Linked DNA regions of Homo sapiens: region 2 is linked to region 1. Evidence: fine-mapped expression QTL. A gene starts in region 1. The other region holds a variant in brackets. All regions are shown on one strand. Distances are from middle to middle. Region 1 holds the start of USP38 (ubiquitin specific peptidase 38). Region 2 overlaps USP38 (ubiquitin specific peptidase 38).

Region 1 (15,933 bases):
TTGCGTATCTCTTCCCATGGCGGATGGCCATCTCTTTGTAAACTGTTCTAGCCCACTTTTCTATGGAGTTGTTGGCCTTTTTCCAATCTATTTTCAGGAGCTCTTTATATAGTAGGTATATCAAACTCCTTTTTTGCCCATGACTAACCTGCAAATGTTTTTTCCTAACTTGTAATTTATCTTCTATTTTTCTTCTTTCCTCCCATACAAATTATTAATTTTTATGTAATAAACTTTTCCATTTTTTTCCTTATTTTATCTGGATTTTGAGTAACAGTTAGCAAGGTTTCCTCACTTCTAGATTAAAATTAATTCACCTAGGTTTTCTAGTACTTGTATGGTTTTATTTAATTTAAATTTAAATTAAACACATTTAATTTTCCCAATTAAACTGTATATTGAACATAGGTTTAACTCCATGAAAAAAATTACCTGGTGGCACTGTAGTTGTGACTATATTAAATTTCCAAAAAAAATAATAACTTTGGAAAGAATTGACTTTGATAATATTGCAGACTGATATTTTTAAAACATCAAGTCAAATCATGCCATCTCTCTGCTTAAAACCCTCCAATGTCTCTCTACCTCACCTGAAGTACAAGCCAAAGTGTTTGCAATAGCCCATGCTATTTGACTTCCGTTCCTAACAGCCTCCCTTGAAATCACTCCAGCCACACCAGCCATAGCAGTTGCTGGTCCTTCTGTGGGACTACTCTTTCCCCCAGATGTCTGCAGGGTCCTTTGGAGCTTTGCTCAAATGTCACCACTCTTAACAAGCATTTCGTGATCATACTACTTAAAACTGTAATTACTATCACCCCCTTCCCTGAATTACTTTTCCTCATAGCACTTTACACCAACTAACACACTATATGTTTTACTTACTTATCATGCATCTTTGGATCATATTGAATGTAAATTCCATATACCCCACAGAGAATTAAACTGCCAACCAGCAATCGAATTTTTTAATTTAAAAAACAATTTAGTATTCTAAGAAACTTTGTTTAGACCAACTCTATCTGAAGCAGATCTTGTAAGTATTATCACTACCTAAATTGCCCTTGCTTATAATATCAAGTCTTAGGTTACTAATCTAATTAAGATGAATTATTTAGCATCAGACGAATGGACGCTCGCAGAGGTTCACCATGCTTGAATTTTAATCCTAGTCTCCTTGCTTCTTCAGCTATGGCTTTTGCCAGCAGTCTAAGATGCCTTCAATATTTAAGTCTCTCAAAGTGAGTTTCTTTTTATACCATCCCTCCAAAGTCTTTAGTGCAATCCACTATACACTGAGAAATTCATAACCTAGTAAAGTTATAGCTGTGTCAATAAGACGCCTAACTTTTCCCCATCTAGTTTCTCAACCGCAATTTAATGTGGGGAGAGGGTTTGCTTAGATTAATGTACTCAAACGTGGTAATGCAGAAGAATCAATTGGGGTCTACTAACAACACAGATTTCTGTGCCCTACCCCAATTAAAATTTTAATTAATAGATCTGGCAACAACTCAAAAAAGTCACTCAATTTTAGGTGTCTCATTGAGAAAAACTAGCTTTATGTCTATTAGGTAATAGCAATAATGCAATCCACAGAGAAAAAATTGGTTTCTGTTATGGACTGAATTTTTTCCTCCTTCCCCCCCAAAAAAATGTATATGTAGAAGCCCTAAGCCTCAATGGGCATTTGAAGATAGAACCTTTAAGGAGGTAACTGAGGTTAAATGAGGTCATAAAGGTGGGGCCTAATCCAATAGAACCCATGTTCTTATAAAAAGAGAAACCAGAGATCCTTCTCTCTCCTGTCATGCACAGAGGAAAGGCCACGTGAAAACACAGCAAGAAGACAGCTATCTGCAATTTAGGAAGAGAGCACTCACCAGAAACTAACGCTACTGGCATCTTGATCTTGGACTTCCAGCCTCCAGAACTGTTAGAAGATAAATTTCTGCTGTTTAAGCCACCCAGTCTATGGTATTTTGTTATGGCAGCCCAAGCTGACTGAGACAATTACTCTCTAGATTATTTTTCATAAAGAATCTGTCACAGCAATTCCAACTGATAGAGGGCCCATGTTGGAATCCTTATTACACAGAATTCAAATAGATATATATATAATCCCTACATTTTAATCGTATTTAATAAATACTAGAACTAAAACCCTTATTTCTAGCAACAATGATTTATTAATAACTTGTTTCCCATTTACATCTAGTTAGATAAGAGCAAGAATTAATGTGTAGTAGGCCTCATAGGCTGCATAGGCCACTGTCTATGCATAGTCATGAATCCATTTGCCTCTTAAAACATAATCCTGGCTGGGCACAGTGGCTCACACCTGTAATCCCAACATTTTGGGAGGCTGAGGCAGGCGGATCACCTGAGGCCAGAATTTCCAAGGCCAGCCTGGCCAAGTTCAAGACCAGCCTGTTGAAACCCTGTCTCTACTAAAAATACAAAAATTAGCCAGGCATTGTGGTGCACGCCTGTAATCTCAGCTACTTGGGAGGCTGAGGCAGGAGAATTTCCTGAACCCAGGAGGCGGAGATTGCAGTGAACTGAGATCATGCCACTTCATTCCAGCCTGGGCAACAGAGCGGGTCTCTGTCTCAAAAATAAATAAATAAATAAAAAACATGATGTCGGAAGTTCCAATCTCTTAGTTTCTAAATATTATGGAGTTTGGGGTTTGTTTCGGTGGGGAAGATCAAACAGGGCAGACTAAAGTCACCTAATTGAAAGTACAGGCCACTTATGGCCAGGGTTGGTTTTTTAAGGGGTGTTGTGTTTTAAACTTTTTTTTCAATTAGAATGTTTATTTAAGATCTTTTCTCTTTTTTGCCATAAGCATTTCTTGCTGTAAATGTCCCTTTTAGGACTGCTTTTGGTGCAAAAAAGAGCCTGCATTGCCAAGTCAATCCTAAGCCAAAACAACAAAGCTGGAGGCATCATGCTACCTGACTTCAAACTATACTACAAGGCTACAGTAACCAAAACAGCATGGTACTGGTACCAAAACAGAGATATAGACCAATGAAACAGAACAGAGTCCTCAGAAATAATGCCACATATCTACAATTATCTGATCTTTGACAAACCTGACAAAAACAAGAAATGGAGAAAGGATTCCCTATTTAATAAATGGTGCTGGGAAAACTGGCTAGCCATATGGAGAAAGTTGAAACTGGATCCCTTCCTTACACCTTATACAAAAATTAATTCAAGATGGATTAAAGACTTAAATGTTTTAAACTTTTTAATTTTGAAATCATTATACAGTCACACGAAGTTGCAAAGATAATACAGAGAAATCCTCTGTACTCTTCACTCAGTTATACCTCAATGTTACCTCTTACATAACTATAGCATAATATCACAATCAGGAAATTGATATTGATACAACATATGTATAATTCCATGCCACTTTACCACACATGGAGTCATGCAACAGTCGCAATCAAGGTACAGAACTATTCTATCACCACAAGAATTACCCTCATTCTACCCCTTTATTAAAAGTTCTACTCATCCCTCTGCCTCTCCCATCTATACCTAGCCCTTGGCAACCACTAATCTGTTCTTCATCTCTAAAATTTCCTCATATTGAGAATGTCGTACAAATGGAATCACATAGTATGTGACTTTTGAGATTAGTTTTCTTCACTTGGCATAAAAATGCCCTTGAAATCCATCCAAGTTGTGTCCATCAATAGTTTCTTTCTTTTTATTGCTAAGTAATATTCCACAGTAAGAATGTACCACAGTTTGTTTAGCCATTCAGCATACTGATGACCATAGTTTGTTTAGCCATTCACCTACTGATGACAATTTTGATTGTTTTTGGTTGTTGGCTATTGCAGATAAAGCTGCTTTGGACATTTGTGTATATGTATTTGTGTGAACATAAGTTTTCATTTCTCTGGAATAAATACCTAGTAGTTCAACAGTTTGATCATATGATAGCTGCATGTTTAATTTTTAAGAAACTTCCAAACAATTCTCCAGAGTGGTTAAACCATTTTGCATTTCCACTTGCAATGTATGAGAAATCAGTTTGTCTGCATCTTTGCCAGCATTAATGTTGTCACCATTTTTTATTTTAGTGGTTCTCTAATAAATGTGTTATAATATCTCATGGTCTTAATTTGCATTTCCCTATTAGCTAGAAATGTTAAACAACTTTCCATTTGTTTGCCATATGTAAATCCTCTTCATTGAAATGTGTCTTGAAATCTTTTGCCCATTTTTAATTGGATTGATTTCTTTACTGTTGATTTTAATTTTTTATTGTGGTAAAATATAACCTAAAATTTACCATTCTTAAGTGTACAGTTCGGTGGCATTAAGTACACACTGTTGTGCAATCATCACCACTATCCATTTACAGAACTTTTCATTCTTTGAAAGAGAAACTCTGTACCTATTAAACAATAACTCCCCATTTATTTTCTCCCTAGCCCCTAGAAACCTCTAATTTGACTATTCCAAGCACCTCATATGAAGTGGATATTTATCCACATGTGAGAGCTGTCTCTGATTTTCCAAATTCTTACAAGGTAAAAACCTTGGCAGTCATCAAATCTTATAGTCTTGGGTGCCACCATCTTGTTTACATTAATTACCAACCTGAGTGGGTAGGGAGGAGTCCCCTGATAGTTTCTACTTTGACCTTCTTCTCTTTGCATAGTAGCCCATCCCAGCCATATTAATTTCCAGAAATGGGACCAGCCCATGTTTTCTTTTTAGATTCATCTCAGAGTTAATTTTAAGGGTTCCTCAGGTGACCCATGTACTTTCCACTGGTCTTTTTCCCACCCTTCCAGGGTCTCTTTTACCAGTCCCTTGACAAGTATAGTGAGTCCACCCCCATTCAGCTGTACATATGGCCATCTCAGGGGTCAGCAGCACTTGACAGGGACCTTCTCAGCTTGGGTGGAGCTTGTCTTCTTTCCAAGTCTTAATCAGCACCTAGTCGCCAGGCTGGAAGTGGCAAACTGCAAACTCAAGAGGAGGAGTTTGAGTCAGAAGTCCTTTTAACCTAAGGGATGACAGGGTGGAGGATAATGACTGTATATAATTTCTTAAGAACTGATCCTTGGTTTCCATAGTAGGAAGATCTGTAGCTCTGCCCAAATACAGGAGCCCATATAATAACTCATAGGGGGACAATCCCAAGTCTTTTCTTGGGACTTCCTAAGGAGTGCTATTGGGAGACATTTTGTCCAAGGCATTTTAGTTTATTAGTTTGGTGAAATGCTTTTTGAGAGTTTCAGTCATTCCTTCTACCTTTCCAGAGGAAGGGGGATGCCAAGGGGTGTAATAATCCCATCTAATTTGTAAACCTTCCATAATTCCCCTTAACACCCGGGAGGTAAATTGGCTGCCATTGTCTGAATCAACGTTTTTCACCAGGCCAAATCTAGGTACAGTCTGTTATAATATTATTTTGACTACATTCCTGGCAGTGGCTGTTGGAAGGGGAAAGGCTTCCACCCAGCTGGAAAGGTAACCTATAATCACCAGTAAATACTTCAGTCTTCCTACTTTGGGTATTTATGTGAAATCTACTTGAATGCTCTGAAATGGTCTTAGTCCAGGAGGTCTTCCTCCCATGAACTGTTTTCTAATCACCTCTTTGTTTATCCTTTGACAAGTTACACAACTTCCACATACTTGTTTAGCGAGGGTATAAATCCCTATCTATCCATAATTCTTAAATATTGCATCACACGGACTCTGGGGTCCCCAGTGACTCCCTTTGGGGAGTAATACAGACATCAGTTCTCTCATCAGGGGTTTACTTATCATTTCTCTCCCATCAGAAAGTACCCATTTCCCATCTTCAGTTTGAGTGACCCCTATCCTGCCTAATTCTTCCTTCTTCTCTCTGGTAAACTGAGGCCTTAATACCACCTTAGGGATGTCTGGTATCAGGCTAAATAGTCTAATTTCTTCCTCCAGGGAGGCTTGCCTAGCAGCTTCATCCACAAACCTGTTTCCTACAGCTTCTATAGTGTTCCCGTTCTGATGATCATTTACATGAACTATGGCTACCTCTGCTGGAAGCAGGAGACTTTCTAAAACCTGTTTGACCAGTTCCCCGTGTACCAATTCTTTTCCCTTGCTATTTATTAGGCCCCGCTCTGTCCAGATTTTTCCAAAAGTGTGTACCACCCCATAGGCACATTTAGAATCAGTATATATATTTCCTTCCTGGCCTTCAAGGAGCTTTAGGGCCTGGTCAAGAGCATGTAATTCACATTTTTGGGCCGACCAGCCATTAGGTAATCTACCTTTCTCACATAATGAGTGTTTATTTCCATCAAAGACAGCATAACCATTAAGTCCCTTGCCATCTATCACTCCGGATGACCCATCCACAAACAGTCTAATCCATCACGTAGTGGAGCTTCCCTAAGGTCTGGTCTAACTTTGGCTTGGTATTCTATGGTATCTAAGCAGTTATGATCTGATGTCTCTTTGTTCTGGTCTCCTTTCCATAGGACACTGGCTGGATTCAGGCAAGTATCTGGTGTTACAACCAAATAATCTTTTTCTAGTAATATGGCTTCATATTTTAGAATCTGAGAATCCACTAACCATCTCCCAGCTTTCTGATTTAATATATTCCTGACCTGGTGTGGGGTGTTTACTATTAGGGCCCCACCAAACATTAGCTTTCGACTCTCCTCTACCAGCAGGGCTGTCGCAGCTACTGCTTGCACACATTCAGATCACCCCTGAGAGACAGGATCGAGAAGCTTGGAGACAAAAGCAACAGGTTGCCTCTTCCCTCCCCAGGTTTGAGTGAGCACCCCAAGGGCCATGCCCCGGTCTACTGTTACAAACAGATAGAATGGTTTCTCTAAAGATGGGAGGGCCAGGACCAGGACTGTAATGAGGGCCTGCTTTAGCTCTTTCACTGCCTTAATTTCATCTAGGGACCATTACAAGGGATTGGGCTCCTCTTCTAGTAACTTGAGATACAGAATTTTGTCTTTTAAGCATATGAGTCAATCCATAACCTACTGTAGCCAGTTAAACCTAAAAATTTTTGGAGTTTTCTCTTTGTCTTAGGCAAAGGCAAACCCACTATTCCCAATATTCTGAGTTTATTATCCACTTCCCTTCACCAATCAGGTGTCCTAAATATTTAACTTCTTTTTCTACAAACTGCAATTTGTTCTTAGAGACTCGCAATCCCCTTTCTCAAAGAAAATAAGGCAAGATTATGGTGGTTTCTGATCACTCGGCCTTCCTTTTGCCAGATATTAAAAGTTCATCTACATATTGTAACAACTGGGTTCCCCTGGAAGGTTGGAATTCCTCCAGGACTAAGATTTGACCAAATAAGTTTGGGGCTTCTGTGAAACCCTGTAGCAGTACAGTCCAGTGGTACTGTTGTTTTCTCCCAGTTATAGAATTTTCTCATTTCTTTTTTGCCTATGAACATCCAGTTACTCCAGCACCATTTGTTGAAAACACCATCCTTCCTTCACTGAATGGCTTTTGAATCTCTGTCAAAAATCAGTTTGGTGTATTTGTGTGGGTCTAGGTTATTGTTGCCCATTTCACTGATCTATGTGTCTCTCTGCCATTACCATACTGTCTTAATTACCCTGGCATACAATGAGTATTATTTTTGGGTAGTGATATGGTTTGGCTCTGTCCCTACCCAAATCTTATCTTGAATTGCAATGCCCATAATCCCCACGTGTTGAAGGAAGAAACAGGTGGATATAATTGAATCATGGGGGCAGGTTCCCCCTTCCTGTTCTCGTGATATAAGTTCTCACGAGATCTGATGATTTTATAACAGGGTTCCCCCTTAGCTCAGCTCTCGTTCTTCTCCTTCCTGCTGCCATGTGAAAGGATATGTTTGCTTCCCCTTCCACCATGATTTTAAGTTTCCTGAGGCCTCCCCAGCCATGCTGAACTGTGTTTATAAACCTTTCCTTTATAAATTACCCAGTCTCAGATACGTCTTTATTAGCAGCATAAGAACAAACACAGGTAAAATGATCCCTCTCACTTAATTCCTCCTTTTCAGAATTGTTGAAGCTACTCTGATTTGTTTTTCCAAATACATTTTAGAATAATCTTGCCTGTATATGAAGAAGAAAAAAAAAACCTGCCTGGAGTTTTAATAGGAATTGTATTAAACCTGCATATCGATTTAGAGATCATTAACATCTACACTATGGTGAGTCCTCCAATCCATGTATATGGTCATTTATTTAGATCTTCGATTTCTTTCATCAGTGTTTTGTTGTTTTCAGCATGAGTCCTGTACATCCACTGTCAGATTTACACCTACATAGTTTTTATTTTGAGCAATTATCAATGGTATATTTTTAATTTTGGTTTCCATGTGTTCATTGCTAGTACATAAAAGTACAACTGATTTTTGTCTATTATCTTATATTCTGAAACCCTGCTGAGTTTGTTTTTTAGTTCTAGAAATTACTGTGTAGACTCCTTACGACTTTTTCTAAACCATGTTTTTCATTTCATTTTTTAAAAGTTCATTCATTCAAAAAATAGTTAGATTGAACTGGGCATGGTGGCTCACGTAATCCCAGCACCTTGGGATGCTGAGATGGGAGGATCATTTGTGTCAGGAGTTCAAGACCAGCCTGGCCAACATGGTGAAACCCCATCTCTACTAAAAATACAAAAATTAGCCAGGTGTGGTGGTGGGTGCCTATAATCCCAGCTACTCAGGAGGCTGAGGAAGAAGAATTGCTTGAACCCAGGAAGTGGAGATTGCAGTGAGCTGAGACTGCAGTGAGCTGAGATCACACCACTGCACTCCAGCCTGGGCAACAGAGTGAGAGACTTCATCTCACAGACAAAAAAAATTGATAGATTGTTTACCCTAGTGTTCTAACTGCTAGATATAGAAGTAACTAATAAAATTAAGGGGTTCTTTTTGACCTCATGAAGCTTAGATTCTAGAGAACAGAAAAAGGCTGTAAACATATAATAAATGAGAACAGTAGGAAAAGACACAAGAGCAACTTGATGGAGGGCCTTAAAGTCAACAGTAGCCATTTGAATTTTAAGAGGAGAAGCACTGGAAGATTTAAAATAGGGTAGTGAGGCTGCTCTGCCTATGAAGTAGCCAATGGTATATTTTTAATTTTTAATTGTCTTTTATTCCTTTACTTTCTTAATAAACTTGCTTTCACTTTGCACTGTGAAAAAAATTAAATGAAATAGTGTCGTAAGATTAGCTTGATGTCCATTTTAAGTCATTAAAACAAAAACCATATCAAAGTGGTTGGTGTGTTTCTTTACAGTCTTTTTTTCTTTACAACTTAAAAAACATATGAATATAAATTTCATAAAGTCAGGGATTATTTGTAATTACTTCATATGATGGTTTATTTATCACAGTCCTCTCTAATCTATACAATCAGTTTGCTTTTGATTCTATTAGGTGATATAAATTTCCTAAGAGAAAACTAACCTCACAATAATGTTATTGCAGTTGGCCAACTCTAACCACTGCTTTTGGAACTGCCTTTTCTCTTTGCTTATCACAAACATAAACACATACACACACTTTTCATCTAATAGTATGATGGAAATAATAGAGACTCTAGAGTCAGACTTGATTATTTTTTTTAACCTCCTTTGGCTTCAATACCTTATCTATAAAATGTAGCTATTAACATCTATTTCCAAAACCCCGTTTTGAGAACTAAGGATAAAGTGTAATATATTGAGTTCCAGGCACACAGAGGTTGCTAAATAAACAATCACTCCTTATCCTGTGCTTTTTCTCTTTCATCCCCATCACTCAGCTTCCATTCTCAGATCTAACATATTTGTAAAACCATGTAGTTGGCAATTGAGGCCTTAGACTAAATCTTTATATGAAATTTTAAAGCCCATTACAATAGCACCCACTAATCCAATGATTAGTGGCATGATTCACTGCAAAAAAATCTTCCACAGACTTCTGAAAATATTTTAAAATGTTAAAAAGGAACATGGTATTATTATAGAACTTTTAGTTATGCTATAAAATAAATTTAAAGTTGGCCACTTTCAATTGAAATCTTATAAAAGAGCATATTACATACATTTTTTAACCAGTGGCAAAAGAAGGAAATAAGCGTTGAATATCTTGGTATAAAAACCTAGTATTTCATTTCATGCATCTATCATTCAAGAGGTATTTTAAAAATACAGAGTCATGGTGCTTTTGGAAGTCTAATATTATGACATGTAATTTATATGGACTAATAGCACTATGTTCTCTCAGACATCTTATTTTGTAATATTCAATTTTTCAAGACCTAATATTAACAGAAAGAAGAAAATGTTATAGACAATTCAAAGTAATCTGTCAAGTTTTAAATTTACCAATATTTTTTTCTTGTCTACTTTGGAATAATCACTTCGCTGGTACTATTCAGCAATCTTCATTCGTCCTGTTAGTTTCTTAGCACAAAGATTAATTCCAAATTTCCTCCACTCCACCTCAAATCCACGATCCTTCTTAATACTTAATTCCTTCTTAATATTTTATTTTCTATATTACCTTTGTCTTCCACTGTGGCATTATTCCCAGTAAAGACAAACATCTGTGTACCTTCACCTCCTATTGGAAAAATCATTCCTGTCTCTAGCATGACTGATAGATTAATTACCTCAATTCTCTTTTATCTTCCGTATCTTCCTACGAGTCAACTTGGTCTTAAGTTCCCTTTTACTCAAGCTCCTGTCTCCTCTAAACTGCTCTTCTTAAGACTACCATAATCGACGTGTGAATATATTAGTGTAATCGTGTTTGTAACTTGGTAAAAAAACAAAACACTATTTAGCAAACTGAAGTAACAGAATTTTGTTCATTTTTCTACGGGACATTTTAAATGACCTATTTCTTTAAAGTTTTGTCTGTATTACAGGGCCTTAATGTCTAGTTTCACAACTATATTAACCAAGCCTGAAGCAGGCTACAGTTAGGCAATATTTTCCAATATAAAGACCTCTGATTAAATTCTTACTGTGAATCTTCGGAATTTGGCATGAAACAGAACAAGCATGATTGCACCTGTTCTTCCCTATTGTAAACCATCTTCGGTGTCAACATATACAATAAGTTTTGTGGTATTTCCACCTGGTTTTCTATTTTCAAAGTACCCTTGTATGACACAGGTATAAAAATATTTTGATTCTAATCTGCCATTTTCCTTACTCTCACACTTTTTTGGACGGCTTATAATTTTCGATATGGTACAAAGCTCACTAACTGGTTCTTTGCTAGAGGCCTGCTACTGATACTGATGGTCGCTAAATGCTAGGTACGCCGCCAGTATTGCTCTTACTTCAATACCGACATCGCAGGATAAAGGCAGTCACATTTAGGCGCGCAAGCGCAATTCTTGATTAATGAGCCAAGGCAGACTTCTCAATCCGAGTTTTGAGTTTTCCTTACTTTTCCCCCAAATGCTCTTTTCCTCGGATTTCACATCGATAGCACTTATTCGAGTTTTCACGAGTAACCTGACGCAGGCGGAACCGACGAAGACTAGCCGGCAAGAATCCTACAGTCGCAGCCATCTGCGCAGCGTCCGCCGGGGACGCTCCGCGCGGAAGACCGCCTGTGACTCGACACACTCTCCAGTGACGCGGCCGTCGCCGCACCTGCGCGGCGGGGCGGGAAGGAGACTCCCAGCGCCGGGGGGAAGGGAGTCTACGACTCGGGAGGGAGGTGGGGGAGCAGGGAGGGAGAGAGGGAACAAGGGAGAAGGAGAGAGGCGGACAGGCGGAGGGGCGGAGGGGCAGAGGGGCGGAGGGGCGGTCCTTCCGGAGGTTCTTAGGTCCTTCACTTCCTGTTTGCCGGCACTTCAAAATCCGGGTCAAAGGGTGTCGCTTCGGTCTCTTCTCCCCGGCTGATCCCAGCACTCTCCGTGACAGCGCCTCCTGACTCAGCCCAGGACCGGCTTCTTCTCACGACCTGCTGGAGACTGGACGCCCACACCTGACCCGGAACTCGGAGGCGTGCTTCCTCCACCCGCCGGCTAGCAGCCCCGGGCCCTGAGCTCCCGCCGACGCCGCTGGGGGGCCCGACAGGCCCCTCGGCGCTGATGCTGAGTGGGATCGAGGGCCCGGGGCGGCGGCGGAGTACGGGCCTCTGGCGCCTTAGGCCAGCCGCAGGTGTCGGTTCTTAGGCTCTCCAGGCTCGCTAGCTCCCGCCCCGGCTTGGATGGGTCTCCCTGCGCCATAAATGTGGCTGCTGAGGCGGCGGTGGCCGTGGCCCGTCGCGCTGCTGCTGCGGCGCTCCAAGTTCATCTCCGCCCCGGGGCTCTCCTGCCCCACCTCGGGGCTGCCGCCACCCGCTCCTTATCCCCTGGCCCTGGCCTTGCAGCGTGGCGACAATGGACAAGATCCTGGAGGGCCTTGTGAGTTCCTCGCATCCCCTGCCCCTCAAGCGGGTGATTGTGCGGAAGGTGGTGGAATCGGCGGAGCACTGGCTAGACGAGGCGCAGTGCGAGGCCATGTTTGACCTGACGACCCGGCTCATCCTGGAGGGCCAGGACCCTTTCCAGCGGCAGGTGGGGCACCAGGTGCTGGAGGCCTACGCACGATACCACCGGCCAGAGTTCGAGTCCTTCTTCAACAAGACCTTCGTGTTGGGCCTCCTTCATCAGGGCTACCACTCTCTGGACAGGAAGGATGTAGCCATCCTGGACTACATTCACAACGGCCTGAAGCTGATTATGAGCTGTCCGTCGGTGCTGGATCTCTTTAGCCTCCTGCAGGTAGAGGTGTTACGGATGGTGTGTGAGAGGCCGGAGCCGCAGCTCTGTGCCCGACTGAGCGACCTTCTGACCGACTTTGTGCAATGCATCCCCAAGGGGAAATTGTCCATCACGTTCTGTCAACAGCTGGTTCGAACGATAGGCCATTTCCAGTGCGTGTCCACCCAGGAAAGAGAGCTGCGGGAATATGTCTCCCAGGTGACAAAAGTGAGTAACTTGCTGCAGAACATCTGGAAGGCCGAGCCTGCCACACTACTGCCTTCCCTGCAAGAAGTTTTTGCAAGCATCTCTTCCACAGGTAAGGGTCATTATCTTTCAGAATATCTCATAAAAAATCAGTATATGTCTCTCTTGCACACACACATTCACACCATGTTTTCCTCCTGCCCTAAAAACATTCTTAAGCGAGAGCAAATCCTAATACCTCATCCCAAATTTATTCACATTCACTACCTTATTCAGGACGTCACATCGTACTTTAAAAACAGGCAGCGTTCCCATTTTAAAGGTTGAGAACGTCCAGGTCTAAGACCTTTGGCACTAAACAAGTTGCTTAATTACCCAGCCTCTGCTCAAGTTATTTGGAATGCTTTGAGGATGACAGCTACTGCAGAAAGCTTCCATTCATTAGTGACTAATGGTAGCATGATGTTTACCATAGTATTTATTGTACGTGTCTCTAATTTTGTAATGAGTTTTTCCCCCATTTTTGTATTTCCTCATTTTTGAATTAATGGATTGTGCAGTTTGTTTTATTACTGGATTATCCCAGATAACTATGAAGTTTTTAAATAGTGACATTTTTTGTCTACAGTATCTAGTAGACAAAGGAGGAATACAGATAGAATGAGGGAAGGAAGAGTACGAGGATTTAAATATTTGTTTTTGTGCCCATGAACTGCATTCTCAGAAAGCAGAGAAGGGTCACATGATACTTGCCTAGAAAATGCTTTCTCGCCGAGGAATTTTACCAGTACCTCTACCTTCGTTGTTCTGTCTTGGACCTTTCAGGTCTGAATAGATTCAAAATCATGTTCATTTCCGCTCTACTTGGTACAAGCATTCTCCTTCATTTATAACACCAGTGGGGACTGTGTGGCTGTTCAAATTGAACTTGTGAGGGATGTGTCCTCTTCTTATCTTAAGAACCAGAAGTAAAGGTGGAGTTTTAACAAACGTTCTGTGTTCTGATGAATTTAATATATTTACGAAAGAATTACAAACGATGTATTTGCAGTATCTGAGTTGGTTTGTTTTTTTTTCTTATTGTAATTTTACTTCTATTGCCTGTGTTGTCATAACTGTTAGGTTCCTCCCAAATTTTTTGAACTGTAGCAGTAAAGGTACTTGTCTTGGATTTGCTTAATTTGTATACAGTTTAAGCAAAATCTCCACAAAAGTCACCTTAATTTCTACTTTAAGAGATTTTTTAAAAATCTTCCTTAGAGCAATGTAATGATGAATAGTTTTAAGTTATTTTGGAGGGTCTGAAGTGGGAGTTGAAATGATACTTAAGTGCCCCCAAAAGTCACCTTCATTTCTACTTTAAGAGATTTTTTCAAAATCTTCCTTAGAGGGATGTAATGATCAATAAGTTTAAAGTTATTTTGGAGGGTCTGAAGTGGAAGTTGAAATGATACTTTATGTTTCTTTATATTTCCTTTCTGATTAGTGATTTACAAGTTAATATTTTAGCTCAACAATAACTCGATAAATTATGAAAAATTAAAGTAACTTATGGACTAACCATATCAATATATTTCAGTATTCTGTCTATAGTATGAGTGATCATTGCTGTTCACTCCTAATCTTTCATTCCTGTAATTTAACATTCCTTGTAAATTAAGAGTCTACCCATGAGGGTGTAGCATAATAATCCTTCCTAGTTAACACCTTTGCTGCAATGACTTTTTTTTTTTGTAAAGTGTTGTTCTTTTTAAATACTTGAACCTACTTGCCATGTTCCCTTTTCTTTTTAATTGAAAAAACAGATGCATCATTTGAACCTTCTGTAGCATTGGCAAGCCTTGTGCAGCATATTCCTCTTCAGATGATTACAGTTCTCATCAGGAGCCTTACTACGGATCCAAATGTAAAAGATGCAAGTATGACCCAAGCCCTTTGCAGGTACTTCTTCATGACACTATTAATGGTAATTGTAGATTTGGGGAAGAGGAAGTATTTTGTATTTTGTGAGTAATGAAAAACTTACGAATGTTTAAAACTAAAATCATGGAATGACATATGTAAAGATTCTCCAAATAGATTGGAATTGTTTATAGCGTTGACAGGCATCCCAATAATTCACAAATCTATTTTCAATTCAACTTTTTTTAATTACCAAAATATACACACATATACACATATTATACACTCAGATGTTGATTGGATTATCAGTATACAGTATTTCACTGCCCATTATTGTTTCCTGCAACCTATTTCTTTCTTCTGCGTTTTTTTTTCTTTCTTCCTTAGTAAGTATATACTTTACTTTCTCTTTCAACCAGGCTCAATGTGTAATACACTCTTTGCCTTTGCCTGTTTGAATTTTTTTTCTTTCTCAGTTTTAAATAGATGATTTGGCAAGATACAGAATTCTAATTTGATAGCCATTTTCTCTTAGCATTTTAAAAATAATACTGTATTACCTTTGGGCATCTGTTGTTGCTCGTGGGAAGTCAGCTGTCAATCTGACTGTCATTCCTTTGTGAGTAGTCAGCTTGTCTGGAAACTTTTATGTTCTCTTTATCCTTGATGTTCTGTAATTTTATTCTTGCATTTCTAGGTATAATCTTAATATTATTTGCCCTTCTTAGCACTTTGGCACTTTTATTCAGTCATTCATTCATTTATTCAAACCACACTTACTGAGTACTTACCATGAGTGCCAGGCAGTGTTCAAAATGTCCTCAAACAAACTGATAAAAATATCTGCCTTTATAGGCTTGCATTCTAGTTGGGGAGGCAGACAGTAATTTAATAACACACTTCACTGATTCCAACATGTCTTCTAATTTCAAAGATGTTTAAATGTAGAAATGCCTAGTCATTCATGTCCTAGTTAAATTGGCACGGCTTTTCTTGCCTTAGTGGTATATAAGCTAATTATGCATCTTAAAATTGGTTTTGTTTTAGATTTGATTAAATATGATAA
Region 2 (16,748 bases), 49 kb after region 1:
TAAAGGTTTTAACTTATCCACAGTTGTGCATTGTTCTGAAGATTGGTCTCATATTTATTTTGAAAACACTTTAAGGAAACAATGTTCTTCGATGATTTGGGGTTTATCTTTTTCCCAAGCTTTTATGACAGTGGTTAAAAAACAGAAATCCTCATGTTTATTCCATTACCTCCCATTCCTAACCTGTTTCCAATCACCAGGAAGATTAGGAAGGCAGATTAGATTAAAAACTGAAAATTCTTTGCAGATTTAATGAAGGTTCTCCTCCTTATAAATGAATGAACCAGTTATCATGCTTTTCTGTGGTTTTCCTATCCCAATAGTGAATTTCTGAGCTATCCTGTGTGTTCAGTTATCCACTTACTTGATAGCAACTTACGACCAGATTATATCAGTCTTGGCATTTATTGAAATTGGTAAAGTGATTTAATACTTGATAGATTGATATTGGGCTAAGATGCTTCTAGGAACTTTCATAAAAGCAATTATACTTGTGCAGCTTTATCTATGAATATCAGGTCTCTCAAGGATTTTATGTATCAAGATAATATGTATTGACTTTTTTAAATGATAAAATGAATTCTAGTTAGAGTCTTTCCTTGGTATCTGCAGTGGATTGGTTCCAGAACACCATCCCCCAATATTAAAATCCACAGATACTCAAGTCCCTTATTTATATAAAATAGCACAGTATTTGCATATAACCTGTGCACATCCTCCCATATACTTTAATCTCCAGATGATTAGATATGATTGCATAGCACTTACGTTGTGCTATGTAGTTGTTATATTGTTTTTTCATTTGTACTATTTTTTATGATATTTATTGGTTTTTTAAATTTTCTATCCAAAGTTGTTTGAATCTAAGGATACAGAGCCTGAGGATATGGAAAGCTGACTAAATATAGTAACACTGAAGAGTATTCAAATGATAACTCATACCAGTACCAAAAACTTGAAGACTTCCTTTTAACATTAAAAATACAGTAACTTTTTACGTGATTTGTTGAATTCAACATATTTGGAACCAGAATAATCAGAAACTTCATTCAAAACCTATGCATCTGAACTTTTTTAGTAAGGTAATACTCAGGACTGTTCTGATTCTAACAGATCCCTGTTAATTACAGATTTATTTGTCATATTAGGTCTTTTCTTTCTCCCATATTCCTAACCCGTGTACTAGCTCCAACTGTTGTGAGGTTTGACTCTGAAGACTGAGTAGAGTACTATTGTTGTTTTTCTTTCCTTAGTCAGAGTAATCAGTTTAAATGAAGTTGCTCATTGCTGCTAAGAAGCATTAGGCTTCACTGCTAGCAAAAATGAAAAACTACAAATCTGAGTCTTTCTTTCAAAGATGTTTATTGACATAATTAAAGTAAAAAATTGTTTAGAGATATGCAAAGAAGGAAATATATATGATGTCACACAAGCTCCAGTAAGCTATCCACTAAGCAGGTGCCTGTGCAACTCTGATTTATGGCATTAACATATCAAATTGAAGGAAGGATTCTAGCTCATTTTCCATTCAAGCATCTTCCCACTGCCTCTCTTCCAGCTAAATAATCAGAGAAGCAGGGCAGTATATCCCTGGAGATCCCTGACTTTTATCTCCATACCTTAAATTGTTGGTAGATCCTTTGGATGTAGAGATAAAAATTCATTATGATGCTAGAGGCATTGGGGGGTCCATGCGAAAGGTTCAAACAGCCTATTACATTAATGCACATGTGGAAAGAACAAAAATTTTCAAGCTAAGTCTTAAGTTCAAATCTATAATTTTTTTCTCTTCAGTTCTGTTCTTTGTATGATAATCCTTAAAAAAGTAGTTGTCTTCTTTTCACATACACCTCTTTAAAGCTATCATCTTATAATAAGTGGAATTGGATGCTTATTGTGTGCCCAGCACAGTTTAGGAAAAAAATAATTGGCACTGTTTGTCCAGTTACTGGAGATCTTCATTTTGATGCTTTGTACTTTGTTCCAGGTCTTTAATTCTCAGTCCATCTTTTCCTATGATTGTGTACTTCACATGATACATTCCATATAAAGAGCTCTTTTAAAATGACTATTTCAAAAATACTGTACATTTATATATAGTATTTTTTCTCATAAAAATGTGATAGTTTATATATCCTTTCATCATACGTTTTTTCTAATGAGTTTAGATTTCTGAAACTAAATATTCCTGAAGTAGAGAAGAGTAAGTTATTCACATTTTACAAAAACATACTAGGAAATGCTAACTGGTTATTATTAGCAACTCAGTAACATCAGAGGAGTAAGGTTAAATCTTAGATAATGCAAACCTGTAACTAAGAAGTGCAACAGTAAGGAAATTTGAATTAAAAGTTGCTATCCCCAAAAAACAAATAATTCTAAAATATAAGCTGTTTCATATGTATATTCTTAAGTTTTATCAAACTGTTATGTATCTTCAGTGTTAGCCTAAGTTAATTTTCTTACAGTCCTTTTTTAGAAGTGAACGAACCTTAAAATGAATGGGGGATTAAAAAAAAACTGCTTTAAAAAACTAGCTTGTTTAAAAAAAAGCTTTCCCATATGAAGAAATTTGTATAGAAATAATTTCTAAAGAAATGAGAATCAAGATTTTTATAAAATCAGCAGTCTAGGTTTCACAAATTCAAAAGGATTTATTATGTAAAACCATTAGCCCCACTGTTACATAACCAGTGTGGACTTAACATTAAAAATAGAATCTAAGAAGTCAGCCAAGTGTATTGCCAGCTCTCGTCAGTGTCTGTTATGACCTGCAGTTGTTTTTCTCTTCATGGAGCTCATGTTTTCATGTTTTGCTTGTGTTGTTGACACACACACACACATCCCTTGATTTCAGAGGGTGAAAAATTTAGCCTTTCCTGGCCAGGTCATCAGTTTTTAACCTTGCATTTCATGTTGAAATCACTTGAGCTTTTTAAAAATCATACCATGCCCAACCCTCATCCCAGACCAATTACATTATGTGGAGACTGGGCATCAACGTTTTTTGAAGTTCCTCACATGATTTTAATGTGCCACCTGGGTTGAGAACTGGACTACAAAAGGAATTTTTTCCCCATAGGTCTTTCATTCAAGGGGATTATTAACATATGTCAAGAGTCTACCGTGTGCTGGACACTGGCAGATATTTATGTGTCTTTTTAACTTATACCAGCCCTGTAAGTGGGCTCATACCCATATCCTCCCTTACCCCTTAATGGACAAAGAAAATAAAGATTCTGATTAAGGAACTTGCTCAACATCGTGCAGCTAGTAAAAATCAGAACTAAGATTTTAACCCAAGTCTTCAGAGCTCCAAAGTCAATACTCTAATGGAGCAACAGGACTAAAGCAAATTACATATTAACAAAAGCTTAACAATGAATTTTGTAAAATGAAATATCAGTGTGTTTCCTTTATCCTTTTGCACTCCAAACATGATTCCTTAAGAAAAAAAAAAAAAAGATCTACTTTGTTAAAACCTATATGTGATAATCTAAAGGGTTGAGAAATGTGGTTCTTAAACTCATTTGTTTTACCCGCGTAGTTTCTGTTTGCTTTACTAGGCTTATCTCTTCCATTCTTGCCTTTATGCCCTCTGTCATGCATATTGGACCTTGCATCATTTTTTTTCACACAGCACCATATACTTGCCATCTCGAGACCTTTGCACATTCAGGTCTCAGGATAGCATACCATTCCCCTTACGCTACTTTCTCTTCCCAGCTTTCAGCGGACTAATGACCTCCTACTCTTCAGTATGTTCATATCTTCTCATACTGACTTCCCAAGCTGATTAGTCTCCGCCTTTATCCTGAGGTGTGTATTGTGCTTCTCTTTGAGAAGGCCATGGCTTAGCAATGGGGCTAAATTAACACTGGAGTAAAGGCTAATCCTTTACAGTATAAAGTTTACACCCAACAAAGATTAAAAGTAGGTCTTAAAAGGATCAAATTCTAATGCTGGTTAAATTCTTTAAGTAATTTAACTGCATACAGAACAAATGGCAACCTTTTTAAGGAAATGCAGTATACATACCCAGCATTTAAGAAAGTAAAATTCACAGTATCCAGCATCTGATCAAAAAGTCTGAGGCATTCAAAGAAGGAGAAAAATCCAGAAATTATGGAAAGAAAGGAATTTGCAAAGTAGGAGCTTAAGAGGAATGTAGAAAATCATGAGCACAGTGAAGAGAAAAATGGAAGATCTGAGAGTCAGTTATCCAAGAGAAAATTAAAAGCACCCAGAGGAAAAGAATATGAGGTCAGCAAACAATACAGAGCCCACAGACCAAGTCTATCCTGCGTCCTGCTTTTTCGTAAGTAAAGTTTTATTGGAGCACTGCTATACCTGTAACCTATTGTGTATGGCTGTTTTTACACTACAATGGTAGAGCTGAGTAGTTATGACGGAGACCATATATATTAGTCTGTTTTCATGCTGCTATAAAGAACTGCCTGAGACTGGGTAATTTATAAAGAAGAGGATTAATTGACTCACAGTTCTGCATCGCTTGGGATGCCTCAGGAAACACAGTCATGGCAGAAGGGGAAGCAGGCTTGTATTACAAGGTGGCAGGCAAGAGAGAGCAGGGAAAACTGCCTTATAAAACCATCAGATCTTGTAAGAACTCACTATCCTGAGAACAGTATGAGGGAAATCATCCCCATGATCCAATCACCTCCCATCAGGTTCCTTCCTCAACACCTGGAAATTACAATCCAAGATGAGATTGATTATGGTGTAACCATATCACCATACAGCCTGCAGAGCCTAAAATATTTACTGTGGTACATTTAAAAATTCTGATCCTTGATATAGAGAAACAAAAGACCAGTCATTTTATCAGAATATGAAAGCTAGAGGATGGTGGAATGGCATCTAAAAAGTGCAGAAGGGAAAAAAAGTCAACCTAGTGAATACTCACTATATCCAGTGAAGATTCATTCAACATGAAGGGGAAATAGATATTTTTAGACAAAAGCTGAGAGAATTTTTTTCTTGAATATTTGCACTAAAAGATAGGTTAAAATTCTTCAGGCTGAAGAGAGCATACCAGGTGGAGATTTGGATCTACAAAAAGGAAGGAAGATTTGGAAATGGATTTGGCACCATTGACTCAATTTCCAGAACAAGAAAGCAGGGACAGTTTTGGGAAGCTCAAGACACACTGCCCATGAGCAGCAATTTGGACCTCCTGCTGCATCCACTGTGCATCAAACACACACTGTACAGACAAAGACTCCCAGGAAAAGAAGTATAAACATGGACTAACACAGAGATGGGCAAACTACAGCCTGTGACCCAGCCACCTGTTTATGTAGAATCCAAAGTAAGAATCTTTAACTTACACATAAACTTCTAGAATTGAGTTTAGCAAGTCTCCTAAATACAAAGTTAATATACAAAGTTCAAGGGTATATTTATACACCAGTGACAGGTATTAGAATATGAAATTTTAAAATATTGACAATAATGTAAAAAATCAATTTTTTAGAAATCTAGAAACAGCTTTTTAGAAATAAAAGATGCATAAGACTGCCACACAATACCATAAAACATTATTTAGGAAGTTAAAGAAGACCTAGATAAATTATGGCTTGGAAGACTCAATATTATAAATACCTAATTTGTCCTCAAAATAAATAGCCAACTTTTCCCAGTCTGTAGAATCAATGCAATCCCAATCTGGGAATTCTATTTTGTATTGAGCTGATTCGGAAATGTAAAGGGAAAAAGTCCAAAAATTGTCAAGACTCTTGGAAATGAGGAACAAGGTAGAATGACTTTCTTTACAAGATAAAACTTATAAAGCTAAAATAATTAAGATAAGGGGACTTATCAGAAATACGCCCATACTTACATGCATATGTGATTTATGACAAAAATAATGTGACCATCCTAGTTGTTTGAGACTGAGGCTGTTCCCAAGACATAGAAATTTCAGCTAAAACCAAGAAAGTCCCAGGCAAACTGCAATGACTTGGCCCCTAGACAAAGGTGACACTTCAGTGTGAAAAGGATGGTCTTTTCCATAAATTTTAGTGGTACAGTGGGTAATCATGTAAGATAAAAGAAAACCCTTACCGCACACTATATATAAAAAATGTATTTCAAGTGGATTTTAACTGTAAACTGAAAGGCAAAATAACACATCAAAGAGATTACTTAGAACATCTTCAAAATCTAGGTGTATGGTTAAGATTTCTTAAACAGGACCAAAAAATCCTTAGTCATGAAGGAAAACAGTGATAAAATGGATTACATTAAGATGAAAAGCTTTTCATCAAAAACTCCATTAAGAATAAAATATGGGCCAGGTGCTGCGGCTCACACCTGTAATCCCAACAATTTGGGAGGCCAAGGTGGGAGGATCACTTGAGCCCAGGAGTTCAAGACCAGTCTGGGCAATTTAGTGAGACATCGTCTCTAATTAAAAATAATAATAATAAAATACAAAGCCACAAAATGGTACATCTGTGTAAATCATAAGCGAACGTATAAAGAACTACAAATCAACATAGAAAAGCCATAGAAAAATGAGCAAAAGAGCAGGCACTTCCAAAGAAAATAAATTTCTAATATACAAAAAGGTGCTGAACTTCATTAATCACCAAACCTCAATAATATGCCATTAAATGCTCATAGAATGAATAAACTTTAAAAAAACTGTCAATATCAAACATTGGTGAGGATATAGAAAGTTAATTCTCATATACTACTTACAGGAGCGTGAATTGATAAAAGTACTTTGGAAACTGTTTGGCACTATCTTCTAAAACTGAACATGTGCCTACTGTGTTATCTGGTAACTTCACTGCTAAAGAGAGATGCTACAAAAAATGTGTGCAGAAGGCACATTTTAAATGTTGTGTACACAGAAACAGTTTTAAATGTTCAATGCAGTATTATTCATAGTAGCCTAAAACTTGAAACAACCAAAATATTCATGAAGAAAAGAATGGATAAGTAATCTGTGGATATGCATTTTTCTTGCTGCTTTTAGCAAAATATAAATTCTGATGGACATTCATATATATTAAATTCCTTTACAGCAGCAAAAATGAATAAACTCCAGATACACGTCACAACATTTGAATTCCACAACCATAATACTGAGGGAAACACAAAAGAATGCCCATCTTGTGGCCAGGCGTGGTGGCTCAAGCCTGTAATCCCAGCACTTTGGGAGGCCGAGGTGGGTGGATCACGAAGTCAGGGGTTTGAGACCAGCCTGGCCAACATGGTGAAACCCCGTCTCTACAAAAAATACAAAAATAGCCAGGTGTGGTGGTGTGCACCTGTAATCCCAGCTACTCGGAAGTCTGAGGCAGGAGAATCACTTGAACCTGGGAGGTGGAGGTTGCAGTGAGTCTAGACTGCACCATTGCACTCCAACCTGGGAGACAGAGCAAGACTCCATCTCAAAAAAAAAAAAAACAAAAGAATGCACACTTTTATGATTCTGTTTCTATAAAACAGGCGGGAGCTAATTTGTGGTATGAGAAGTACAGACAATATTAACTTTGGAGAAAGGGAAGGAGAAGTGTTCAGAAAAGATCATGAATAGGGGACTTCTGTGGTGTGATTAATGTTACATTTTTTTACCTGGTTCTTTGTTTACCAGGTTGTGTTGATTTTGTGATTACATGTGGAACTATCTACTTATAATTTTGTGCTTCCCTGTATGTCTTTTGTACTTCAAAAAAAGTTTAAATTTTTAATTATAACTGGCAGCTCTATTGAGTCTAGCCTCCCAGAGTGTTTCATTAGAAAAGGAAAGTAGTTAAGCTGTTGGAAGAGCCTCAGTGATGGATGATGGGCCTAAAACAAGAGAGTTGCAGAAAATTGGACAGGATGAAATGAACTGTTTGTATATATCTAAATTGAGTATCCATTATTTAATTTAAATGTCACCTACTCTGGTGCACTAGCCACATTTTAGATGCTCATGAGCCATGAGGCTCATGGCCGCCATAATGAACAGCACAACTCTAGTGATAAGCCATAATGGTGATAAACTACACTTTATCATTTTATGCCTCCTTCCCATCCTGTCCATTATTTGGGTACCCTTTAAAAATTAAACACATGTGTTGTCTAATTACTGAAATAAATGAAAATGCTACGGAAAAAATCTGGGCACCTATCTTCCTGGAAACTTCAGGCTTAATTCCATTTAGAGAATGGACCGTCTGTGACTTCTGAAAGAAGAACTTACAATATTATTAATGGTTTCCCCTATTGTTAAGACAACAGACCAATAAACTTATTTTTTAATGTTGCTGCTATTGTCCACTTATTAACCAGTCTGTCTGCTTGCTAGACCCCATTAGAACATCTTGTCTTCTTTTTAAGTTTATTTTTATTTCTTGGGTCTTGGTTTATACTCAGTCCTCCACTTCCTACCACTGATCCTAGTTTTTTTGTTTTTGGTTTTTTGGGTTTTTTGGTTTTTGGTTTTGTTTTTTTTTTTTTAGACAGAGTTTTGCTGTTTCACCCAGACTGGAGTGCGGTGGCACGATCTCGGCTCCCTGCAACCTCCATCTCCCAGGCTCAAGCAATTCTCCTGCCTCTGCTTCCCGAGTAGCTGGTACTACAGGGACGTGCCACCATGCCCAGCTAATTTTGTGTATTTTCAGTAGAGACGGGGTTTCACCGTGTTAGCCATAATGTTCTCGATCTCCCGACCTCGTGATCCACCTGCCTTGGCCTCCCAAAGTGCTGGGATTACAGGCGTGAGCCACTGTGCCTGGCTGATCCTAGTTTCTTGAAACTAGGTGAATATTTTTCAGGATGCCTGTCTTTTGGTTGTTATGGTCTTGATATCAAAATCACAATATTTCAGTACAGAGCACTAGCACTGCTGCCCTTTAATTTCTCCACGATAATCTATACTTAGCTAAGTCCAAGACACATGTTTATAAATACTACTTTTCTGTATTTTTGGCAGCTTATATTTCCAGAGAACTTCATTTTTAGTGTGAATGACAGGCTTGACCTTCATTTAGTTCTGTATGGAGCAGTTTGTTCTCAAACCATAGTCTAGTGTTAATGAGAAAAATATTGAAATCGAGGCTCAGAACATGGAAAAATAATTTGCAGTTGAAATCAGTGATACACCTCTGTAGGTTTCTGCTGAATAATTTCTTGAATTGGGTAATTTCCACCCTCTCGGCTTTCAGTAATAGCAGAAGCAACTACGTAAGCAGATTAGCCAATAGACACAAGTTTATTACTTTCCTCACTCATGGCTAAGATGACTGCAAAATGAAAAGTAAAATAATAGTAATAATACAAAACTTGCTTCTCAATCTTCACTGCCTTAGAATA[C/G]AGAAAACACTATAACTACCCTTAAAATCTGGCTTTGGAAAGTGATTGTCCAGAATATTCTATCTTCAACAAGGACTCAGGCTGCCAATATAAACAGGACAGCAATTGTCTGGAACAGTTATTCCATATTCCACTATCCTTTTTGGAACATCATGATTAGGCCATCATGGTTACGCACTTATATAAAGAGCTAAGTTTGTGTTAAATACTAGAGGCAAAAAAATAAATTGGGTGCCATTTGGCAAATTATCTTCCCAGATCTACTGTTGACTCGGAATAAATGCCTTAAACAATTCATATCTCCATTTTCCAGGCAATCCAGCTATCAAGAGTTCACCATGGTGGAGTGGGCCAGGCTGTCCTAGTGCCTATGTCTAATTGTCTATGACAATTAGAAAAAGGCACCAGCCCTATTTGGACAATCAAAAAGAAACGAATATCTCTTGCTCTAAGCTAATGAAGTCAATACCAAGAGGCTTGATGCGAATCAAGACTGTATTTCTTGAGGGCTGAATTTCAACCCCTTTTCAAGCACCATCATCTGGGTGCCCTTTTTCAGGCAAAACTTATACAATGTATACCACTGTTGTGAACGGGCAGTTCTCAAAGATGAGATGCTCAGGAGACAACCTGAGTTTACTTGAAGTTTAAAGAAGACAAATATAATAACTGTGAGCTTTAATGGACCAAAACATAATTTTTAAGTACATAAATGATTCAGTGATTGTCTCAGGGAAACCAGCTACATTTGTAAGTCTGTTATGTAAGTTTGTTTATCATTAAGAAAATATTTCTTAGCATCTACTATGTGCTAGGTACAATGCTGGCTAGCAAGGTAATGAAGTTGAACTTGAACAAAGTGGACACAGCCCCAACCTTTATTTTGTAGCTCAGAGTCTGGCAGGGAAGGGAAATAAACCAGCAATTATAGTCATAGGGGAAATATGAGGTGCTGCACTTACACATGGCAAGTGTAAATATCTAAAGGGCATGGCAAATATCTAAAGGGGTCCTAGCAGCCTAATAATTATATATTTCAGTAGATTTCAAGAGACATCTTGTCATAGTGACTTGATAACTGTTATAGAATTTATGGTCTGTTTTCAATTTATTAATCACAGCTCCTGCTGCCCATGACATTGCAGAAAATTACTTACAACAGGATAGATCCATTCTGGCTATAGTGTGGCAAAAAGTGCATAAGTATTGCTTATCATTTCACAAGGAACCTCCTTCACTGGCGTAGAAAATGAGTATGTACTCCACAGAGGCCTATCTCCCAGGCATCCTTCATCAGTAATCCTGAGCCTGTAATTCCCTCATTAGGACCTCGGTGTTAGGAAGAAAATGACTCAGGAGAGGAGGAAGAGGAAAGGCAATAAGGAGAGCCAACATTTATGGAGTGCTAAATAAACATCCCTATACAGTTATTTATCACTGTCTGCCCCACCCAGAGTGCATTCCATAGGAAGCATCCCACCAGATGCTGCACCTCCTTTCCATTGCTTTTGAATCAGGAAATACAGGCCTCAAAGACAATCCATTCAGCACATGACCAACAAGCCAGGACTTCTTTCTTTGCTCTAAAAGATGAATTTCGACAATCAGGAATCTCTGCAAGTAAAATAAAGAGACATAGAGAATTACCTGTTAGTGGTGGGTGCTGGTTCCAAGTGACTATATAGGCTGGAGATTAGAGAGGCCATTTGAGTAACTTGTAAAATAAGGAAGCTGGTTGACAGAAGGAGGACAAAAAGCAGACCTGTAGAGAGGGGCAGAAAAAAAAAAAAAAAGACAGAGAAGGGCTAATCCTTAGAGACAAACCAGTTCCTCTCCTCCCTGGTTGTCTAATTCTTCCTTGGTTCCCCCATATTTGTATTCCTTAATAAGCCTTTATTTCCTCTGAAGTTATTTCAATGAGTTTCTAATATTTGCACTAAGATAACTTCAACTAAACCAATCAGCTAGGTGGTTTACATTTATAATCTTATCAATACAATCACTCTAACAGGTATCATTATTCCTATTTTACATACCACATAATTGAGGCTAGGAGAAATAAAGTACATTGGCCAAAGTGAAACAGCAATTCTGACAGCTGGTAATGAAAAAAAAAAAAAAACCTAAGGATCATATAAATACATGGAATTGTCTCAGAAAACCACTTTACCTCACTTTTCCCACCTATCCTTTCCTCCACCAAGTTGAGTAGGTAGAGCTACCAATATCCCTTGACACAGGTACGTGATTTAGTCCAGAGAAAACTGGTATATGTTTCTATGTCTTCTTCTCCTTTGTAAGCCAGCATTAAAGTTTGTTTTAATGAAATTTCATCTTAACCAAAATGCCAAGCATTGATTCTCTCAGATCGTATATTTGTAGTGATAACTTTCCTACTGTGTGAAATCATTGAAAACACAAATCCAAGATCGACTAACAACACATGTTGGCCCTAGAGACACCTCAGAGTCTGCTGCAGGCAATACCATTGCTTCAAAACACAATTGCACATAATGGAAAGACAACAGACTTATTATTATGACATCTTAATACACCCTTATGATAGACGGAGGGCACGGGCAGGAGAAAGATTAATTTAGCAAGATAGAGCACTTGTGCAAATAAGACAGAGTCCTAAAGCAAAATATTGGGATACTTCCCTTCAGAAAAAAAAAATGTTTTGAGCCCAGAGTATGCTCTTGACAGGAGACATTTTTAGAATCCAATGATAACCCTGTAATTTTTTAAATTACAATATATGTATTTTCTTTAATTTTGAAATAAAAACCCTGGAAAGAGATCTCTGTCAGATCAAATAGTCTATGATTCCTACAATGGTGGCAAATAATTTCAAATATATATATTGGATTTTTTAAGGCTATAGTATTTGGAAATGGCAGAATAAGATAAGGTATAAAAATGTCAATTTGTGAAGAATAGGCACTAGGCTTTTTAGAGAAAACATATGATCAACTGTGCCTTAATCTATTTAATTACAATACAGAGTTAAAATCCATAAAGGAGGGTTCCCTTTGTTTAGCAATTTTAGTTATTTATTATTATTATTATTATTATTATTATTATTATTATTATTTAAAAATGGAGGCAGGGTTTCACCATGTTGTCCAGACTGGTGTCAAACTCCTAGGCTCAGACAATCGGTCTACTTCACCCTCCCAAAGTGCTGGGATTATAGGCATGAGCCACTGTGCCTGGCCAATTTTAGTTATATTTAAATTCCTGTGGATTTCTTTTGGCATTTATTTACTTCATGGACTCTTTGGCTTTTAGCATGATGCATTTTTGTAACCTCTGTTTAGTTTGGTTGGCTGTTAAGCCTATGACTTTTCAGAGTGGGTTCATTATGTTTATTAAGTATAATCTGGTGAGAAAACCCTTCCAGGGTCTTTCTCACAAAGACAATATGAAGTAGCCAGAAAAATCACAACCATGTTTATGATTTTAATAATAACAACTTGAAAACCAGAACAAAATACAGAACTTAGTCCCAGGGATGACTAAACAAGTGTCATCAATTCATAGCTGCTATCATTTGTTGAATCACCTTTAGTCTTTGGAATTTCATGATTTTAGTTTTCTTGTGAAAGTAAAACAACAAGAGATACATAGCATTAATAATTTGAATAGTAGTAATATATTGCACATAAGAATTATAATCAAAAAGAGAATTTGTATGCCAAAATGAAAAAAAAAAAAGAACTGATTCCACTAGCGAGCCAACTAAAAACATCATGAAGAAAATTAAATCCAGGTTCTTCTTTAGAGATTTCTCATAGCCAAAAAATAATCTAGTATTCAGTCCAAATTGCAGGCAAGTAATAAAAAACTCAAAAACAATGGTCAGGGCTACAGTCTAATAACAGGTGTGCTATACTTTTCTTCTGAAACATTATTTTTCTTTCTTCAGTCCCCCTTTTCTATTAAAGAGAAATCACAGCAACACCAATTTATTCTCAATATACATTTTAGTCTTATTATACTTTGCCTGATTAGTTGCATAAAGTGTAAAAAGAATAGCCATTGCCCACATAGGATCCTTTTTAAGTTGGCTTTGCTGGAATTTTTTCATAAGGGATTTTGGATTAGACTTTTAAGAGCCTCTCAAGTCTAGCAAGCCAAATCAAGGATTCATCATGAGAATATGCGTGTAATGCCTGTACAAATGGGGTGAATTCCTTTTTTCTTAAAGTCCCCCAAGTATCTTGACATTCTTGGCCTGTCAGAAAGTGACATCTTTTTTTGTGTGTGAGACAGGGCCTTGTTCTGTTACCCAGGCTGGGGTGCAGTGGCATGATTATGGCTCACAGCAGCTTCAACCTCCCAGTCTCAAGTTATCCTCCCACCTCAGCCTCCAGAGTAGCTGGGACTTACAGGTGCATGCCACCACGCCCAGCTAATTTTTTTTTTTTTAAGACATGGTCTCACCACATTGCCCAGGCTGGTCTTGAACTCCTGGACTCAAGCCATCCTCCAGTGTCAGTCTCTCCAAGTGCTGGGATTACAGCACTTTGAGCCACTGTGGCTGGCCTTTTTATTTTTTTCTTTTGAGACAGGGTCTCGCTCTGTTGCCCATGCTGGAGTGCAGTGGTGTGATCACAGCCCACAGCAGCCTTAACCTCCCATGCTCAAGTGATCCTCCCACCTCAGCCTCCTAGGTAGCTGGGTCTACAAGTACACACCACCATACCCAGCTAATTTTTAAGCTTTTTTTGGTACAGATAGGGTTTCACTATGTTGCCCAGGTTGGTCTCAAACTCTGAGCTCAAATAATCTGCCTACCTCAGCCTCCCAAACTGCTGGGCTTACAGGCATGAGCCACTGTGCCCAGCCAGAAAGTGACATTCTTTACTTACCCCAAGGTCAGGGACCCTGTAAGAGAGCTGTGCAGACCAGGTACCAGGCCAGTCTTTCTCTTTATATTGGCTTTATAATTTCAATCCCAGTCTTTCAAAGCAGTCTTGCCATGTTTGAAAATATAATATTCCAGCCACAGCCTTGGTAAAATAACCAGTGCTTCTAATATGTCCTATAACAAAAGAAAATAGATTCTATTGAACTTATTCAAATAACTATATTGAAATAAAATAAGAATGCTTATTAATACTTTCCAAATCCTGGAGAATTCAGGTAGAGAGAGAAAGGTAAATGTTTCAATTTTGCTTGCAAAAGAATACCAATTACTGTAAGATACAAATTGCTCAAAAGAAAATAAGTTTTCTTGATTCTGAAAAACAAAATACAAAATGAATCAGCAATATTTCAATGAAAAGGTCATAAAAATCACTTTATTCCCTCATCAGTTCAGTCCCATGTACTTCTTGTTCTGCTTGGTGTCATGTTAGCAATCTTCATGAACACGTCATTTTTTTTTTATTAGAGTTCTGGAAGGTTTTATCTAGTTCAATGATATCATCTCCAAAGTTATCAGAAGCCTGTATTCAAGAGCACTTGTCAGAGTCTTTTCATGAAAGTAATTTTGGACTGTAGTTGGTTGCCAGTGCTTTTAGAGAAGAGTTCAAAACAATAACTATGGATGGCAAAAACCTAAAATAGCCATGGTTAAAATCTGATGAAAGTTCCCAATTGACAAGGAAATTTAGTTATTTCTATTACATGCAGCATTTTCAGATAATAACCAGAATCATAACTGATAACATCACATCAGGGCTATCAGATTTTAATAAGTTTCACATACTCTTGAATATTCACATTAATAACATATCCATACAAATATAACTTTAGAAAAGATTTAACAAAACCAAAATTATGACTACTAGCATTATATTGTTATGAATCTGCATACTTTTGTAACATTGACATCAATAACATACCAATAAATGTAACTGAGAAAATTTGTTATTACTTACCATTTGACAATGCCTCCCATACAATTTACCAAATAAGTCTAATCATTTGCTCTCTCTATAAGATGAGAGATATATTCTTTGAAACTCTCCAGGGGCCCAACTAGATAATCTTAAAATTAAGTTTAAGCCAATAAGACTTAACTTAGGATTTTGATCCTGGGGAAACCTGCCAAAGATGTCAAAAGATTCAAAACAGTTGACCCTAACAGAATCACAGCTTATTGTTAAATAATAATTGTTCATTTAATCAGAGTGAAAATCAAAAGACTTCAGAAGGAATACAAAAAGTTGCATGGGTGTAAAAATCAATCCTTTTAAAGCTTCATTTTCCTAAGTAATCAAAAATCTAACACAGATAATGTGGGAATTATCTTGATAAAAACAAGTTTCAGAAAGGAATAGAGTTCAGAATTAGAAATGGAAACATTGGCCGGGCCCGGTGGCTCACGCCTGTAATCCTAACGCTTTGGGAGGCCAAGGCGGGTGGATCACCTGAGGTCGGTAGTTCGAGACCAGCCTGACCAACATGGAGAAACCCCGTCTCTACTAAAAATACAAAAATTAGCAGGGCATGGTGGCAGGTGCCTGTAATCCCGGCCACTCAGGAGGCTGAGGCAGGAGAATCACTTGAACCTGGGAGGTGGAGGTTGCAGTGAGCCGAGATCACGCCACTACATTCCAACCTGGCTAACAAGAGTGAAACTCCGTCTCAAAAAAAAAAAAAAAAAAAAGGAAAGAAAAGAAATTAAAACCTCTTGCAGTTTTATTAAGATCAAATCAATAATTTAAGAAAATCTCGCTGTTCTAACATAGGAGACCAAAATTTCTAGTTTTGTATTAATGTACTTTTAACATCAAAGCTCAATCTTTAAGAACACATAAATAATTTCCTTTTAATTAAAGGCGACTGAATCACATGCAAAATTTATTTCATGAAGTTTTTTCATGAACCGGCCTGGTGCAGTGGCTCACGCCTGTAATCCCAGCACTTTGGGAGGCCGAGGCGGGTGGATCACAAGGTCAGGAGTTCAAGACCAGCCTGGCCAAGATGGTGAAACCTCGTGTCTACTAAAAATACAAAAATTAGCCAGGCATGGTGGTGGGCGCCTGTAATCCCACCTTCTGAGTTATCTGCAAAATACCCATGTATTTAAGATTCTTACTTAAGTGAACACTTAATGTTCACAGGTTATAAAAATGGCTAAAAGGAATATATTTTGAAATGGTGACTAGCTTTGATAAATATCTCAGTTCGCATAAATAATCTAGCGAAACTGTTAAAAATTAATAGATTAGGTAATTGTAAATGAGATAAATGCCTGTAAATGGAGTTTTCATGTAATTTAAAATCTTAAAGTTATGTTAAATTAAATAATAGATGCTCATTAAATATCTGGGTCATTTCCAATTAAGATTTAAAAAATTATAAGAAAACATGTTTCTGAAAATTATAAAATGGTTCTTATTTATAAAATACTGAGATGTGACAGTTTAAAATTGCTTGCTAAAATTTAAGGTTACTAAGAG

The links. PIP is the estimated chance that this variant, and not a neighbour inherited with it, causes the effect.
Region 2: its variant is fine-mapped to the expression of USP38 in blood mononuclear cells (TOPMed, PIP 0.99).

The regions. Positions count from the first base shown.
Region 1 is chr4:143,173,056-143,188,988 of GRCh38, forward strand. It overlaps USP38 (ubiquitin specific peptidase 38), which reads left to right and starts at 11,862. Exons shown (of 10, transcript NM_032557.6): 1 at 11,862-13,077; 2 at 14,771-14,906. The coding sequence starts at 12,396. It overlaps USP38-DT (USP38 divergent transcript), which reads right to left and starts at 11,806. Exons shown (of 4, transcript NR_185979.1): 1 at 11,453-11,806. RefSeq lists enhancers at 10,912-11,797, 11,798-12,682 and silencers at 11,734-11,783, 12,004-12,253.
Region 2 is chr4:143,221,699-143,238,446 of GRCh38, forward strand. It overlaps USP38 (ubiquitin specific peptidase 38), which reads left to right. Exons shown (of 10, transcript NM_032557.6): 10 at 1-2,176. Among named protein-coding and RNA genes, the nearest start is that of USP38, 45 kb to the left of the region's middle. The variant C/G (reference allele first, on the strand shown) is at 9,334.